Linked DNA regions of Homo sapiens. The protein of the gene in region 1 purifies or fractionates together with the protein of each later gene. This does not show direct contact. Each region holds a gene or a part of one and is shown in the gene's direction. Other genes may lie near its edges.

What was found.
Region 2: the proteins of ZNF563 (region 1) and LRP4 purify together in Homo sapiens (affinity purification with mass spectrometry; 2 studies listed by BioGRID and IntAct, with this or other methods). This does not show direct contact.

Annotation. Positions count from the first base shown.
Region 1 is NC_000019.10:12,330,531-12,338,659, reverse strand, and holds the start of ZNF563 (zinc finger protein 563), read left to right. Parts: upstream 1-5,026; 5' UTR 5,027-5,177; coding exon 5,178-5,180; intron 5,181-8,129. UniProt on the Homo sapiens protein: May be involved in transcriptional regulation.
Region 2 is NC_000011.10:46,908,448-46,915,929, reverse strand, and holds part of LRP4 (low-density lipoprotein receptor-related protein 4 precursor), read left to right. Parts: intron 1-7,482. UniProt on the Homo sapiens protein: Mediates SOST-dependent inhibition of bone formation. Functions as a specific facilitator of SOST-mediated inhibition of Wnt signaling.

The DNA of each region.
Region 1 (8,129 bases):
TGGGTCTCGAACTCCTGACCTCAGGTGATCCTCCCACTTCGGCCTCCCAAAGTGCTGGGATTACAGGCATGAGCCACTGCGCTTGGCCAACTGTAGTGTTTTAAAATAGCTCCATCAAGCCGGGTGTGGTGCCTCATACCTGCAATCCCAGCTCTTTCCGAGGCAGGTGGATCTCTTGAGTTCAGGAGTCCAAGACCAGCCTGGCCAACATGGCGAAACCCCATCTCTACTAAAAATGCAAAAAATTAACTGGGTGTGGTGGTACACACCTGTAATCCCAGCTACTCAGGAGGCTGAGGCACAAGAATCACTTGAGCCCAGGAGGTGGAGGTTGCAGTGAGCTGAGGTTGTGCCACTGCACTCCAGCCTGGGCGTCAGAGCAAGACTCTGTCTCAAAAAATAAGAATAAATAAAATAGCTCCATCAGACAGATTCTGCCAGTAAAACTGTTGTCTAGGTGGGGAGACAGCTTCTTTATGCTTGGTACCCTGCCATCTACCCTGAATCCTCTGCCCTGAGGGTTTTTTGTTTGTTTGTTTTCTTCCTTTCTTTCTTTTTTAGACAGTGTCTCACTCTGTTGCCAAAGCTGGAGTGCAGCAGTGTGATCATAGCTCACTCCAGTCTTGACCTCCTAGACTCAAGTGATCCTCCTGCCTCAGTCTCCTGAATAGCTAGGACTACAGTTCTATGCCACCATGCTCGGCTAATTTTTATTTATTTATTTATTTATTGGTAGACATGGTGGTTTTACTCTGTTCCCCAGGCTGGTCTTGAACTTCTAGCCTTGGCCTCTCAAAGGGCGGAGTTAACAGGTATGAACCACTGCACCTGGCTTTGCCCTGAGTTTTTACACTAATATATTATTTCATGTCTCACATTAAATGTCACCTTCTCAGGGTTCTTCATACCACCTCAGTGACTCTTACATGTTTTTATTTGTAGAATTTTTTTCCTGGCACTTTTTAGATTCAGGGAAATCCAATTAAGGTTGACAGAATGTTTTGGTTTCTTAACTGTTGAAAAGTTAAATCATATAAATGAAACCAAACTGAATGGTGTTATGTTTACTTTTATCATCTGTATTGCTGTGTATGAAAGTACCCCAGAAAACCGGAAAACCATTTTTAAAAGCCTTTTTCCAGAAAGGAAAATAAAATGGCCAGACAGCGTGGCTCACACCTGTAATCCCAGCAGTTTGGGAGGCCAAGGTGGGTGGATCATCTGAGTCTAAGAGTTTAGACCAGCCTGGCCAACGTGGTGAAACCCTATCTTTACAAAAAAATACAAAAATTAGCCAGGCATGGTGGGACATGCCTGCAGTCCCAGCCTCTCGGGAGGCTGAGGTAGGAGGATCGCTTGAGCCCAGGAGGTTGAGGCTGCAGTGAGCCATGATGGTGCCACTGCATTCCAGTGTAGGTGATGGAGCGAGAGCTCGTCTCAAAAAAAAAGAGAGAAATAAGCTAACTGTTGTGGTAAGGGGTGACATTAATATTATTCACACATCCTTTCTCTGGTGCGGATTTCTCAGGGTTGTGCTGAGACCTCCAGTATTTACAGCAGCTGATAGTCACTTAGAATATTCTGTCTGTGCCCTCACTGAGCAGGTAGTGACACAGGTTAAGAAGAACAGAAGCAAATAAAATGGATGTGTCCTCACCCAAGACATTACTATCTGAGAAGACTGTTTCAAATGAATAAATGAAACTGTGGGCATGAGAACCACAGGTGAATTCAACCTGGGCCAGTTTGCTTAAAAGGAAAATGTATTTGTACAATACTTAGGATTTAGATACAGATATGACTGTTTGGGTCAATGGTGTGGGCTGGGGTTGAGAGGGGGTTTCAGATGGATAAATGGGACATGTCCATCCCCAGGCACAGAGCACATGATGTCAACCCTGAGCTATGAAGGTCAGGGAGTGACTGAAGCCAAGGAGAGAGGAGAGCTCACATTTAATTAGTTGTTTTACACAACAGTTTGCTAAGGTAAAAATAATAGTTTGTTAGCATGTTTGTTTCTCAACAGAATAATTATTTACCAGTTGGTTTTGTTTGCTTGTTTGTTTTTGAGACGGAGTCTCGCTCTGTCGCCCAAGCTGGAGTACAATGGTGCGATCTTAGCTCACCACAACCTCCACCTCCTGGGTTCACGCGATTCTCCTGCCTCAGCCTCCTGAGTAGCTGGGATTACAGGCACGCACCACCATGCCCAGCTAATTTTTAGTATTTTTAGTAGAGACGGGGTTTCACCATGTTGGTCAGGCTGGTCTTGAACTCCTGACGTTGTGATCTGCCCGCCTCAGCCTCCCAAAGTGTTGGAATTGCAGGTGTGAGCCACCGCGCCTGGCCTTGTTTTGTTTTTGAGGAACCAAGATCTCCCCGTGTTGCCCAGACTGGTCTCCAATTCCTGGGCTCAAGCAATCCTCCTGCCCCTGCCTCCTAAAGTGCTGGGATTACAGGCCCAAGGCACCATGCCCAGTCCATTTACCAGTTTCCAAATCCCTATTAAATATCTTATATATATTTTTTCCACTACTTTATATATAGACACAGGAAGAAACCCAAGATTGTCAATTTTTTATTCAAACAGTGGAATTGAGGGTCTTTGTTTCAATTAACTCATCAGTGCTGGTGAGAAGCAAGTGAAGACTCTTACAGAGGCCATGGGGAACATTCCCTTTTGCCCTCTGATGTTTTGCTGAATTAATTGGAGAGAAGGCAGATTAATTGGAGGAAAAGCATACAAATTTTATTTAACGCGTATATCCAGGAAGCTTCAGAATGAAGACCCAGAGATACAAAGGAAATTGTTCATTTTAATGCTTAGGCTTAATGTATGGACAGCCGTGTAGAAATGTGATTAGATTGAAAGAGTATGATCCAATGCTAACAGACTGAGTGGGGAAACCCAACAAGGCCTGTGTGTCTAGATTGTTCTTGGCCTTTCTGAGCATGCATTCCTTCCTTCTCAGTATGAGGCAGGACCCACTCTGAAATGGAGGGTCTTATGACCTACAGCAAGCTTGTCCAACCCATGGCCCAGGAAGGCTTTGGATGCAGCCCAACACAAATTCATGATCTTTCTTAAAACATTAGGAATTTTTGTTTTTGCTATATATTTTTAAGCTCATTAGCTATTGTTAGTGTTAGTGTATTTTATATGTGGCCCAAGACGATTCATCTTCTTCCAATGTGGCCCAGGGAAGCCCCAGGGCCACCCTGACCTGCAGTCAAACAAAGTTGGACAGTTAATTTGCTTATGGCCAGTTTTTACACAGAAAGGACAATGGAAAGTTAGAGTAGTATGTTTTGATTTTATGCCTGGATTTAGGGGAAAAGGGTTCTGGATTCTACGACCCACTTTGGAGAAGAGAGATTCTAGTTTCTAAGGCTAGCCTTGGATAGAAGAGTAGGACTAAGAGTCCCAAGAATGGGACTAAGTTTTTCCTCTGCCCTCTGTGGAGAAAAAACTTTTGCTTCTGAGGCTTCTTCCAAGGTCTTCTTTTTGGGGTATTGTTTTCTGAGCCCCAGCCACCTGGAGTGGGCAGCAGAGTTTGAACCAGTGACTCTACACCGAGCCCATTCTGAAGGCTGCAAAGGGAGAGAAATGGAGCCCCCTTTGGTGCTTCCTCAGCAGCCTGCGCACGCCTCCACGTAGCACGAAGCTGCACATAGAATCAGAATTTACCATTTATGTGTTAGGAAAATCTGGGTAAAGGGTTTATGAATTTGACAGTTTATGTAGGTCAGTACCTTAAAGTAACCTTTTTTTTTTTTTTTTTTTTTTTTTTGAGACCAGGTCTCACTCTGTCACCCAGGCTGGAATGCCGTGGCACGATCTCGGCTCACTGCAACCTCCGCCTCCCAGGTTCAAGTGATTCTCCTGCCTCAGCCTCCCGAGTAGCTGGGATTACAGGTGCCCGCCACCATGCCCAGCTAATTTTTGTATTTTTAGTAGAGATGTGGTTTCACCATGTTGGCCAGGCTGGTCTCCAACTGGTGACCTCAGGTGATTCACCCGCCTCGGCCTCCCAAAGTGCTGGGATTGCAGGCGTGAGCCACCGCCCCGGGCCCTTAAACTAACTTTACATGAAACTTTCCTGTTGGTGAAAATGCACATCTTGACGGTGGGGGCATTTCCACACTCTGCAGAGGGCACAGGGAAGTATGTTGAGCTCCCAGAGTCAAATCCTTCAGTGTCCCAGTCTCATCACCAGGTTTTGGTTCACTCTGGGGTTCCATTTCAACAGTTAAGAGTGGCTGCCAAGTTTGGGCATATGTTTAGCCTCCTGAATGGGACGTTTGCTGAAGTATGAGGGCAGCAGGCTGCTTATCTGCACTAGTTCAAGTTTTTGCTTTTTTTTTCCTGTTGTATTTTTGTTTTGATTCATTCATTCATTTATTGCTGCCGTGTGATTTCAGTTCTTCCACACATTTGATATTTTAATACCGTTCTTGACTTGTTTTTATTTCCTTGGCTGAAAATGAGCAGATTGAGAGGCAAGGTGAGAGAGGAAGGCTTAACCTTGCCGCCAAGAGTCTCATCCTCAAATCCTGATGCCCGGTGGACATCAGGCCACCCTCCTGCTGCAGTGTGGCCTGTGTGGCCTTGGGCTCCCCTCTGCTCTGAGGCCAGGGGAATGGCTCCACTGGACTGTGAGTCTGGGATTCCCTGCAAAACACTTGTGACTCCTTCTCCAGGAGGAAAAGGCAGTAAGGGCCTGCTGAGTACGGGCAGGTAATTCTGCATAAATGCAAATGTTCCCTGGGAGGGATCAGGACAGCACAGGGAGGAAGCCTGCCCTGTCAAGGGCTGTGCCTGGAACTCGTTCATCCCGCTCGACTCAGCACTGTGTGATCGCTTCTTCTGTCACTCAGTGCCCAGGGGGCGGGACCTGGAGCCCTATCCAATCAGAGCTATGGGGCGGGGTCGTGAGAACTGTCAATCAGGCGCACGGCTGGCAGTAGGGTGCCAGGTTCAAAGAGCCCGCGGCGTCTTCACGCCCCTGCGCTCAGCTCTAGACTCAGTCGCTCGCTGAGAGACGCCCTGGAACGTCTGTGTAGCCTCAGTCGCTGAGAGACGCCCTGGAACGTCTGTGGCAGCCTCTGTCACAGTGGGACCCGCACTGGCAGCGGGAGGCAGAGGGAGGACCCTGGAACATCCCGGAAGCCGGGAAATGGTGCGTGTGCAGGGTCAGGCGTCCCAAAAGTGGGAAAGAGCTGGTTGGAACCGTCCAGAACCGGCCGCGGCGAACGTGGGCCTCCCCCGCCGTCAGCTCCGGGGTCTGGGACCCGAGTCCCCCTGGCGCAGCTCGACCCTCGGTCCCCTCAGCCACAGAGTGAGGCTGAGCTGGCAGCCGGGACCCCGGGCGTCCTATCCGGTCCCTGCGCGGCAACTGCGGTCCCGGCCTCGGAGCCCTGTCTGGGCAGCTCCTCGCCCGCAGCCCCCCATCTCCCCAGGATTGGGGGAGGGTCACGGAAGGGTCATGGAGGGAATCCCCACTCGTGTGTGGGGTTCGTGCCTGTGAGGAGCTGTGATCTGTGGGATCCTCAGTCTCTGTTTTCTTCCTAAAGGGGACCGGTGTCCCTCTGAGTCTTCAAAGGTTTGGGAAGGCAGATGTCTAATGCTTATCTTGTCCCCTCACCCTAACTCCTGGGGCTGGCAGTAAATCCCTAGATTTCCAGATTTTGCCCTGCATTTCATAAAGCTGACTTCCTCTCCGTCACAGGGGAACGACTGCTATCTGGGCCGGTAACGCCGGGGTAAAATAATTTTTACTAAGACAGTTGTAGGTAAAGTTATTAGCGAAAGAAGCAAAATCCATCGCAAGGGAGGCCATGGGAAGCCTGCAGGAGAGAAGCAGAGGCTTGTGGGTGATTTTATAGAATGGAACTTGGGCTGATTGATAGTGCCAAGGCAGCAGAGTGCCAAGGCAGCAGGGAGCTTAACTTGCATTCCTCTGTCAGCCCCGGTGTTTGATAAATTGAGGCGTTTGATGGTGAGCAGGAAGTCTGTGAATTAAGTGCGTTATCTGGGCAAGAAGGCCATGTCTTGGGCCATAAAGAAAGTTAGACATGTACAGGAGTTCCAGACCAGCCTGGCCAAGATGGCGAAACCCCTTCTCTACTAAAAATACAAAAATTAGCCAGACGTGGTGTCACATGCCTGTAATCTCAGCTACTCGAGAGGCTGAGGCAGGAGAATCGCTTGAACCCATGAGGCGGAGGTTGCAGTGAACTGAGATCACGTCACTGCACTCCAGTCTGGGCCGGCGACAGAGAGAGACTCCGTCTCAAAAAAAAAAAAAAAAAGAAAAAAGAAAAAAAACAAAGTTAGACCCGTAACTTACCTGCATTCTCTTTTGTTTAAATTCTCTGCACATGAAGATAGGCAGATTTATAGCTTTTTTGTTTTATCTTTCTGCTTTCCCCTGTTCCCTTTAGCCTTTCCCTAATTAAGACTTTAATTTAACAGCCTTTTCCCCTGTTCCCCTTAGCCTTTTCCCTAATTAAGACTCTACACTGTCCTCAGTTCACAGCAACATAATGAACTCTTTGTCCCCCAGGCTGTATTTCAAACAAATACAGTATTTTAACTGTCATTTTTTTCCCCAGGTAGCAATATATGATTCTTTTTTAGAAGATATGATTTTTGTTTGTGAATATTTCATATGTGAGGATGCAGAGAATAACCACCTGTCAGGTGGTTTAACCACTCTGCTGTAAAAACCAACAAGAAAAATGTCTGCGCCTCTTCTCCTTTTATCTTCTCTGGGCACAGGCACCTTATCTGGAAGTGTTTGGGTTGAGGTTCCCCTTTGGAAACCACCAGCTGATGAGTCCTGAGCCCACACTATCTTTTCCTGGTACTGGCTTTGATAACTGCCTGGGACTGGCACCAAGTGGATACAGCAGCCTTGTCTTGGAGGGTAGTGAATATCAGCCCCTGGGCCACTCCTCCCAGAGGACAGCCTGAGATGCAGGGCTGGGGCCTCCCAGGGGAAGAGCTGGATACCCTGTGGTGGGAGGATTCCCCTGGTATCCTCTTGTAAAAAGTTAAGCCCTGGGATACTCAGTTTTCTCACCCCAAGCCCAGTTTTCATTTCTTGGAGACATGGCTGGTCAGCCACTCAGGTGCTGGTATTGAGGGGGTAAAATAGAAATGATTCCCATCCTTTGAATTCTGTTAGACTAGTGAAGCAAGAAAAACTATCCGAAAGGTCAAAGATAACTTACCCCAGTGAGGTGGTGTAAGAGCCTGAAAGTACACAGTGCGGTATCTGGTGGTTGGGGGTAGGGAGTAGTCACTGAGCACTTCAGTGAGCAGCACGGGGGTGGGGGATGTCCCAGGTGACAGGAGGACCTGACCTGACCCTTGAATGAGACTTGTCTGTGTTCCAGTCAGCACTGCCCCTCCCTGAGGTTGTCAACCTTGAAAAGATTTGTTCACTCATTTCTGTTCAGTTTTTTCTTAGCTGTAAAATGCATTCTATCATTAGAGATTGATAGAGAAGATGTTTCTAAAGGGACAAGAAAGAGTTGGATTTCAGAAAACAAATTACATATATCTAGTCCTATATGCCTTTAAAAAATTCTTGTTTACTTTTCTTTTCTGTCGTACTACACAGAGCCTGTGTAGTAAGTTTTCCAGGTCTGTTTTTTTGTTGTTGCTGTTGTTTTGTTTTTAATTGGATCATCTCAATAGAATTTCAGGGCTTAGCAGAGAAAATGCCATCAGGGAAAATAAATTGGAAAAAACTTTCTTCCATGATGACTACAGAAAAATGAATACTGTCTCAAGGCTCTTAAAATACTTTTTCTGGTATGAGAAAGGTAGAGAACCACATTCAAAATGGAAGCTGAGGTAATAGAGTGAATAAAAATTCATGAAAACAGGCAGGTCTGTAATTAGTTGATTATTGTATATGGAGGTGTTAGGCAGAAGATTGGTTATTCTTCTGGAGATAACAATTTGTCCCTGTTCTTTGGGTTGAAGTAGCTGTCATTTGTATCGCTGCCTGGCAATACCTGCTGTGCCATAGTTTCTCATACCTTAAATAGATGCTCTTGTTCCAGAATTTGCTGTCTTCCATTGGACTTTGTACCCATCACTTTGCTAACACCATACT
Region 2 (7,482 bases), on another chromosome or scaffold:
TGGACTGACACTCAATTCCAGGGGCTCAGGGAGACAGCAGTTGTGATAAATGTAGTAGTAGATCCATTAGGCAGACCTGACCTCAGCAAGGCATGAATTAAAGACACTAAAGTTTAAGGTGATTTTGGGAGGCTGAGACTAGCGGATCACTTCAGGTCAGGAGTTCAAGACCAGCCTGGCCAACATGGCAAAACCCCATCTCTACTAAAAATACAAAAATTAGCCAGGCACAGTGGCACATGCCTGTAGTCCCAGCTACTCGAATGGATGAGGCAGGAGAATTGCTTGAACCTGGGAGGCAGAAGTTGCAATGAGCCAAGATCACTCCCCTGCACTCTAGCCGGGGCGACAGAGTGAGACTCTATCTTAATAAATAAATAAAGTTTAAGGTGCTTATTTGGATGCTGCTAGTCCTTGGGGCTTTTCCTAGAGCCTATTGGTTTGGACTCAGCCCACATAACTCTCCAACCTTAAAGATTTTGGAAGGAAACTTGATGGCTGGTAATAGCCCTGAGTGATTTTCATCCTGAAGTTTGAAGTAAGGGCATGGATGACAACCATTGGAAGAGTGGAAAGTGTGTTTGTTCTAGAGGTCTCATCCAGGTAAGGGAAATGTTAAAACTTCTGCCTAGGCGTGCTTGGGTAGATAGAAGGTTGTATCTGAAAATAAGTGCAGAGCAATTGAGCTGAGACTGGTCTCCTTTCCATCTCGCTGTTGTCGTGACCAGGGTTGTCATGGTGCTTGAGTGACCTTGTCCCTGATCTGTTGGGCTTGTGAAACATACTTGGCTTGTCACTGATTTTGGATTTCCTCTTCTGTACCCTGATGAATATCAGATAACATCTTTTGGACTGGCACGTGGTATTAAGAATGACAGGTGCAAGGGAACCAAGTCTGGCCATGTCTGATACAGAGCACGTTGGGTATGTCCATCTTCTGGGCCAGCAAAGAACACAGGAGGTCACAGAGGACACGGTGTTTTATAGCTCTTTGCTCACTCTTTCTACCGATTAACTGCCAGTCTTAACTGTTAGAAGGAAAATAGGAGAAATTGTTTATGTTGCTGCCCCTTTAAAGAAAAAAAAAATACTGGGGGTTCCTGAATAGGAACAGAATTTCAGGGACTACTTTAAGAAGTAATCTTGTCTTTTTTATGATTGGGTAAGATTACGAGACAGTCTGTGCCCTTGGTTGACTAGGTCTGTTAGCCTGTTCCAGCCATGGTCTCTCTACATTCCTTGATGCAGCTTAGCCACGAGTTTTGTCACAGTTGCCTGGACATGGGGCATCTGGGCCCCAGACTGTGTCTGGACTGCCATCTCATCTTCAGCAGCGGAAGCCCTCCTCCCCTCCTCAGCCTGTGAGGATTCAGTGTCCCAGGGAAGACTCAGTGCTGACTGGTTAGCTGGCAGAGCCTGAGTTTGACCTTATAAATAGTTCTGATGACTGCATGGGCTTGTCACTCTCACTCCAGCTTAGAGCTGGCAGGAATGAGTTCCTCGTACAATCGGGAGCATTCCTCAAACTAGGCTCCACACCCATTCACTTGTTCATTCATTCAGCAAACACACATATGTCAAGCATTAATATAATCACTGTATACGAAGCTCAGCAATTAAGAAGCACCCACAGACCTGGGTTTGAATCTTGGCTCTGGCAATTCTTGGTGACCCTGTGCAAAATCTCCCTGAACCTCAGGGTTGTTACCTGCAAAGGCGGGTAGGGTAGGGGAAGGGAAGTAGTAATAGATTATCACATAGGAATATCATAAAATTTACCTGAGATAATAGCATGTTCAAACTATGCAGCACAGAGCTTGGCAACTACTGTGTTACTGTAGAGCTTGATAAAAGTTAGCTGTAAGCAAAGTCACCTAAGTGGATCCGAGATGATTCTTGGCTTTAGAACATGGGAGCCAGGTAAATAATTATGCTACCGTGTTCTGTGCTAAAATTGAGACTTGGTCCTTCATTCATTGCAGCTGGTCTTTTGCTTGTCTCTTTTAAAGATCTGCCCCTTCTTTCTCCCCTTGAAAACGTGATAGAACCGAAGCATAGTTCCCACTTGTGCCCACTCCTAGAAAAGAAGTCTGCTAAGCTATAACATCAGTCTAGGGGAACTCATGTCGCCTTAGTTCTCTTGAGAGAGGTCTGGGGAAATGGAGCTTTTCCTCTGAGAGTTTCCCTTCTTAAGTGGTCAGGGATGCAGCCTAGCAACTTCTCCTGCTAAGATTCCTGTGACATGGGGTGAGAGGGGCTGGCCAGGGACTCTTGTAGCTGGAACAGTTTAGAATTCCAAGCCCTCCCTCCCATTGGCCTGAGAAAGGAGTCAGGCTCCAGAGCTCATAAGGTAGTAATTGCCCCAATTTGGGAGCTGGGCTGTTGTGGAGCCTTCGCAGCTACCATTTTCAATCAGGAAGCCTGTCAGCTTGCAGGCCTAATTGATGTGGGTCTCCAGCCCCGAATAGCCCCCAACCCCTAGTTCCTCCACCTCAAAGTTTGACCCCTGTTGTCTCTTTTGTTTCTTCTTTTTAAGTTGGTGCCAGTGATGTGATTTTTGGGAGCTGCGGAAAGTTGACCGTAACCAAGAGCAGCTGTTAAAAAGAGCCAATTCTCTAGCTTCCTGACGGTTGTCTGCCTCCATTTTCTGTTGTGCGTTTTTGATTTAGCAAGAAGCAAACATCCTAGGTGCCCTTGGGCGCCTCTTACGCCCATCCAAGCAGACTTCATTCTTTCACTGCTCGTAGGCATTCCCATTCTTGCTCACAGATGAGCGGACTGGCTGTTAGCGCTCCCTGACACCCTGTTTCCCCATGCGGAATAGGACTCCCCCATCATTCAGGTTCGAATGAGGGGAGGGGCGCTGTCTGGGACCCAACTGGGGATAGCCTGGCTGGGACTTGCTGCAAGCCCTGACTTGGCCTATGGGAGCTCCCCCTCACCTCTATGCACAGCTGAGGATCAGAGCGGCAAGCAGAGCCGGAAACAAAAGACTGGGAGCAAACCTCCCATCTAGCTGAGAGGCAGTGACACAGAGGTGCTGCTGCATAATTTATCACCGGAGGTTTTCTGGAGCCGGGAAGCTCCTGGCTCCAGGCAGTGCCTTTTTGCGGGAGAGGGACCCTCCCTCTGTCTGGGTGTAGGGCAGAGCAGGTACAGAGAAGGGTATCCAGAGAGACACCTGATTAGCATGTGAAATAAAGAAGCTGCAAGGTTGTAAGTGCCTCCAGGGATCTCTCCAAGCTCGGCAGCTCCACTTCCTGTCACGCCTTGGGGGAGGTGGGGAGGGGTAGTGGCCTGCAACCACGCGCTGGCATGGATGAGGACAAGAGACAGCTTCTCTGTTGAGTTGACTGTAGCCTCCTTCTAACCAAGTGGAGAGGCCAGGTTATGGCATCCACAAGCCTAGCAAATAGGAAAGGGGAGCCCCAGGTTTTCCACCCTCCTTCCACGGGCAGTTTAAACAATAAGTTTCAACTACAGGCTCCCAGAGCCAATAAAAGCCAACAACTCTACAATGTATCTTCCCCAAATGAGAATTTCTGCTCTTCTAGGAATGATCTCCTCCAATGACAATTTTTGCAAATTGTGGGATATGTGGATTTACAAATTGGGATATGTGGTTTAAAAAATCCAAATGTATTTCTGGAGCAGTTAGCATTTTTGAGAGCTTTGCTGTGTCCCTGGTACTGTGATAAGCATTTAGTATATGATATCATATTTATTCCTCACAATATCCTTATGAGGTAGGTAACATTAGATTCCCGTCTTACATTGGCCAGGTGCGATGGCTAACGCCTGTAATCCCAGCACTTTGGGAGGCTGGGGTGGGTGGATCACTTGACGTCAGGAGTTCGAGACCAACCTGGCCAACATGGTGAAACCCCATGTCTACTAAAAATACAAAAATTAGCTGACGTGGTGGCACATGCCTATAGTCTCAGCTACTCAGGAGGCTGAGGCTGAGGCTGAGGTGGGAGAATCGCTTGAACCTGGGAGGCAGAGGTTGCAGCGAGCCAAGACTGTGCCACTGCACTCCAGGCTGAGCGACAGAGCGAGACTCCGTCTCAAAAAAAAAAAAAAAAAAAGAAGATTCCCATCTTACAGATGGGAAACAGGCTCAGAGCAGTTTCCTGTCATACAAATAGTGAGTAACTGAGCCAGGATTCCAGGCTATCCCAGAAGATCTAGGTTGGGAAGGTCTATATTTCATCTTGGATTGACCTCTCCTCTGTTTTCAGACATCTTCTCAGGGAGTCTGAATGCATAAGGAATTACTTCTCAGGTGCTTCTTGAGGGAGAGAGACTTTATTTTTATTTATTTATTTATTTTTTTTTTTTGAGACAGGTTCTCACTCTATTGCCAAGGCTGGAGTGCAGTGGCATGATCATAGCTCACTGTAGCCTCGAACTCATGGGCTCAGGAGAAGAGAGAGACTTTAAAAGGTTTCCAGAAAAATGTGGTTTGTTGCTCCCTGAACAGCCATAAACAAATGTGGTTTGTTACTGTGTGGACCTTCTGATTTGAGATGTAGGGGGAAGGGAAAGCAATATTTTGAGCAGCCCTTCACAGAGCACAGCCATGTTTGAGCCCTGTTGGATTTGTGAAATCTGTTGACAGCTTCCAGGTAGGGCAGGTAGAATTTTGAGGATCTATACAAAGATAGCCTGGCATTGGCTACATTACTAGGTTGAGAGAGAGGACATATCCAGATGAAGATAATGGGATTAGTACAAATAACAAGAAAAACAATAACAGCTGTCTAGTATGAACCTCATACGTATTATTTCATTTAGACCTCCCAGCAACCCTATGAAATAGATACTGTTATTACTCCTGATTTACAAAAGTGGAAGCTAATCCATTTCTTAATTGCTCTGTACTTTAGTTTCTGGATTCTCTCTCCTGTCCTTGGCTCCTCAGAATTAGTTGGTGATAAATTAGGCAAAGATTTGCTGGGTGTGGTGGCTCGTGCCTGTAATCCCAGTGCTTTGGGAGGCCGAGACAGGTGGATCACTTGAGGCCAGGAGTTTGAGACCAGCCTGGTCAATGTGGAGAAACCCTGTCTCTACTCTAAAAATACAAAAATTAGCCGGGTGTGGCGGTACACACCTGTAGTCTCAGCTACCTGGGAGGCTGAGGCAGGAGAATCGCTTGAACCCGGGAGATGGAAGTTGCAGTAAGCTGAGATTGTGCCAGTGCACTGCAGTGTGGGTGACAGAACAAGACTCCACCTCAAAAAAAAAAAGGGGGCAAGGATAAAGGATACCATGTGCCTCAAGCTCTTTCAGAGAAAGGCAATAAAGCAAGACTCTGCAGTTATTCATGCCACCAACTTAACCCATGGTGGTGGTACTGCTGCCTGGTACACAGTAGGGTTTTCAAACATCTCAAGTCCTAAAATAGCAGGTCTTAATCATGGAGTGGTTGGATGTGACAGTTCTGGGGTAAGCCAAATCTTTAATAGTAATAACAAGAGCTATTATTTATTGAGCACTTAGTATGTGCCAGGCAGTAATGCTAAGTCCTTCTTATGAATTAACTAATTTATTTCTCATAACATTCCTGTAAGTTAGGGGATTTTATTATCCCAATTTTCCTGATGAGAAAATTATATATAAAGAGGTTAAATAGCTGCCCAGGGTCAGACAGCTAGGAACTTAGCAGAGTCAGGATTTTTATCCTGGGGAGTTTTGTTCCTCCGTGCTTAACATTATGTTCTTCTGCCTCATAACTTTGGAGGCTAACCATTAAGGACTTCTTTTCTGTATGTAACAGTAGCAAGAGAGGGCTGAACTTGCTTGGACCCGCAATCATGTGCCCGACATGTCCCTTTCGAAACGGGCCACTGAGGAGAAGACTTCACCTGGTAGATTTTCCAAACCAACCAAGTTAAGCTGGCCTCTAGGAATCGGGAATAAAAGGGACCATGGGACAGAAATAAGTAGAAACATGGCGTGTCAGTTTCACAGCCGGATAATACAGCTGGTGAAAGGAACTCTTGTAGGAGAAAGGAGTAAACAAAACCTGGGTAGGACAAAGAGGCTGCCTTGCAAACGAGAAGATTCCTGTTCTCTCCAGCACTGGTTAGGTAGGAAATAACTACTTTTATTTATGATATTCTGAGTCTCTTTTCCTTTGACTCCAGCTTTCACAAGATTCTAGAGGAGTGTTTCATTCATTCATTCATTCATTCAACGAACTTGTATTTATTGCTGCCAGTGGATAAAAGGAGAGAGGCATATGCTAATATGCTTTAGCATATTATAAACGAATGGTGATTCCTCCTTTTTTTTTTTTTTTTTTTTTTTTTTTTTGAGACGGAGTCTCGCTCTGTCGCCCAGGCCGGACTGCGGACTGCAGTGGCGCAATCTCGGCTCACTGCAAGCTCCGCTTCCCGGGTTCACGCCATTCTCCTGCCTCAGCCTCCCGAGTAGCTGGGACTACAGGCGCCCGCTACCGCGCCCGGCTACTTTTTGTATTTTTAGTAGAGACGGGGTTTCACCTTGTTAGCCAGGATGGTCTCGATCTCCTGACCTCATGATCCACCCGCCTCGGCCTCCCAAAGTGCTGGGATTACAGGCGTGAGCCACCGCGCCCGGCCGATTCCTCCTTTTCTCATTGTAATCCTAATAGCTTCCACACTGGGGTAGCCACCAGACTCCAGAACACTCACAGGGTACTCCTTAAGCCTTCTCATCTCTGGTTCAGCTTGAAAAAGCTGGTCTGTAGCTGTGAGTAGTCACGGTCTACCCATGTGCCTCCATGTGACAGATGTGGTCCACCTTCAGCTGTGCATTCTATGGAATGGTGGAGAGCAGTGCCGCTAGACACTTGAGTGTGCATCGGTGTCACCCGGAAAGCTTACTGAAAGTCCAGACTCTGAGATCACACTAAGAGAAGAATACTAGTTTAAGTGTCAGAATGGGGCTGCCATCCTGGCTCTCCTACTTACCTTGTGACCTTGGCCAAAGCGGGTGCCCTTACCTGTTGGATGGGCCCTGCAGTCATTGCTCAGGATTATTGTAATGATTCAATGAGAATGCAAGTGCATATGCAAAAGTAGCTCACAAACTAAAGAGAAATTGCAAAGTATAATTATTTGTTATGGGAAGCCCTGTTCCCTGGACCAACAACACTCGAGTGCTGATTCAAAAGTGCTGGGACGCCAGACTTTCCCCACTTCATTACTTTACCTTCCGGCGAGGGAAATGAATCTTTCTTTACCTTAGCAGTAACCAGAAAGAGGTCACTGTTTGAGACCCATAAACTCACTGCATATTTGCTATTGGAGAACACATAAAAGAGAGGGACCCAGAAGTTGTAAATTCCCCCTTTTGACCTTGGGGTTTTGGAGATTCTCACAACAGTAATACCATTTATTGGGAAGCAGTATAATCACCTGCCTGGGTGTGAATGCTGGCCTCAACCCTTAGTACTTGTGCAATCTATCTACAGACTTAACCTTTCTGTGGTTCATT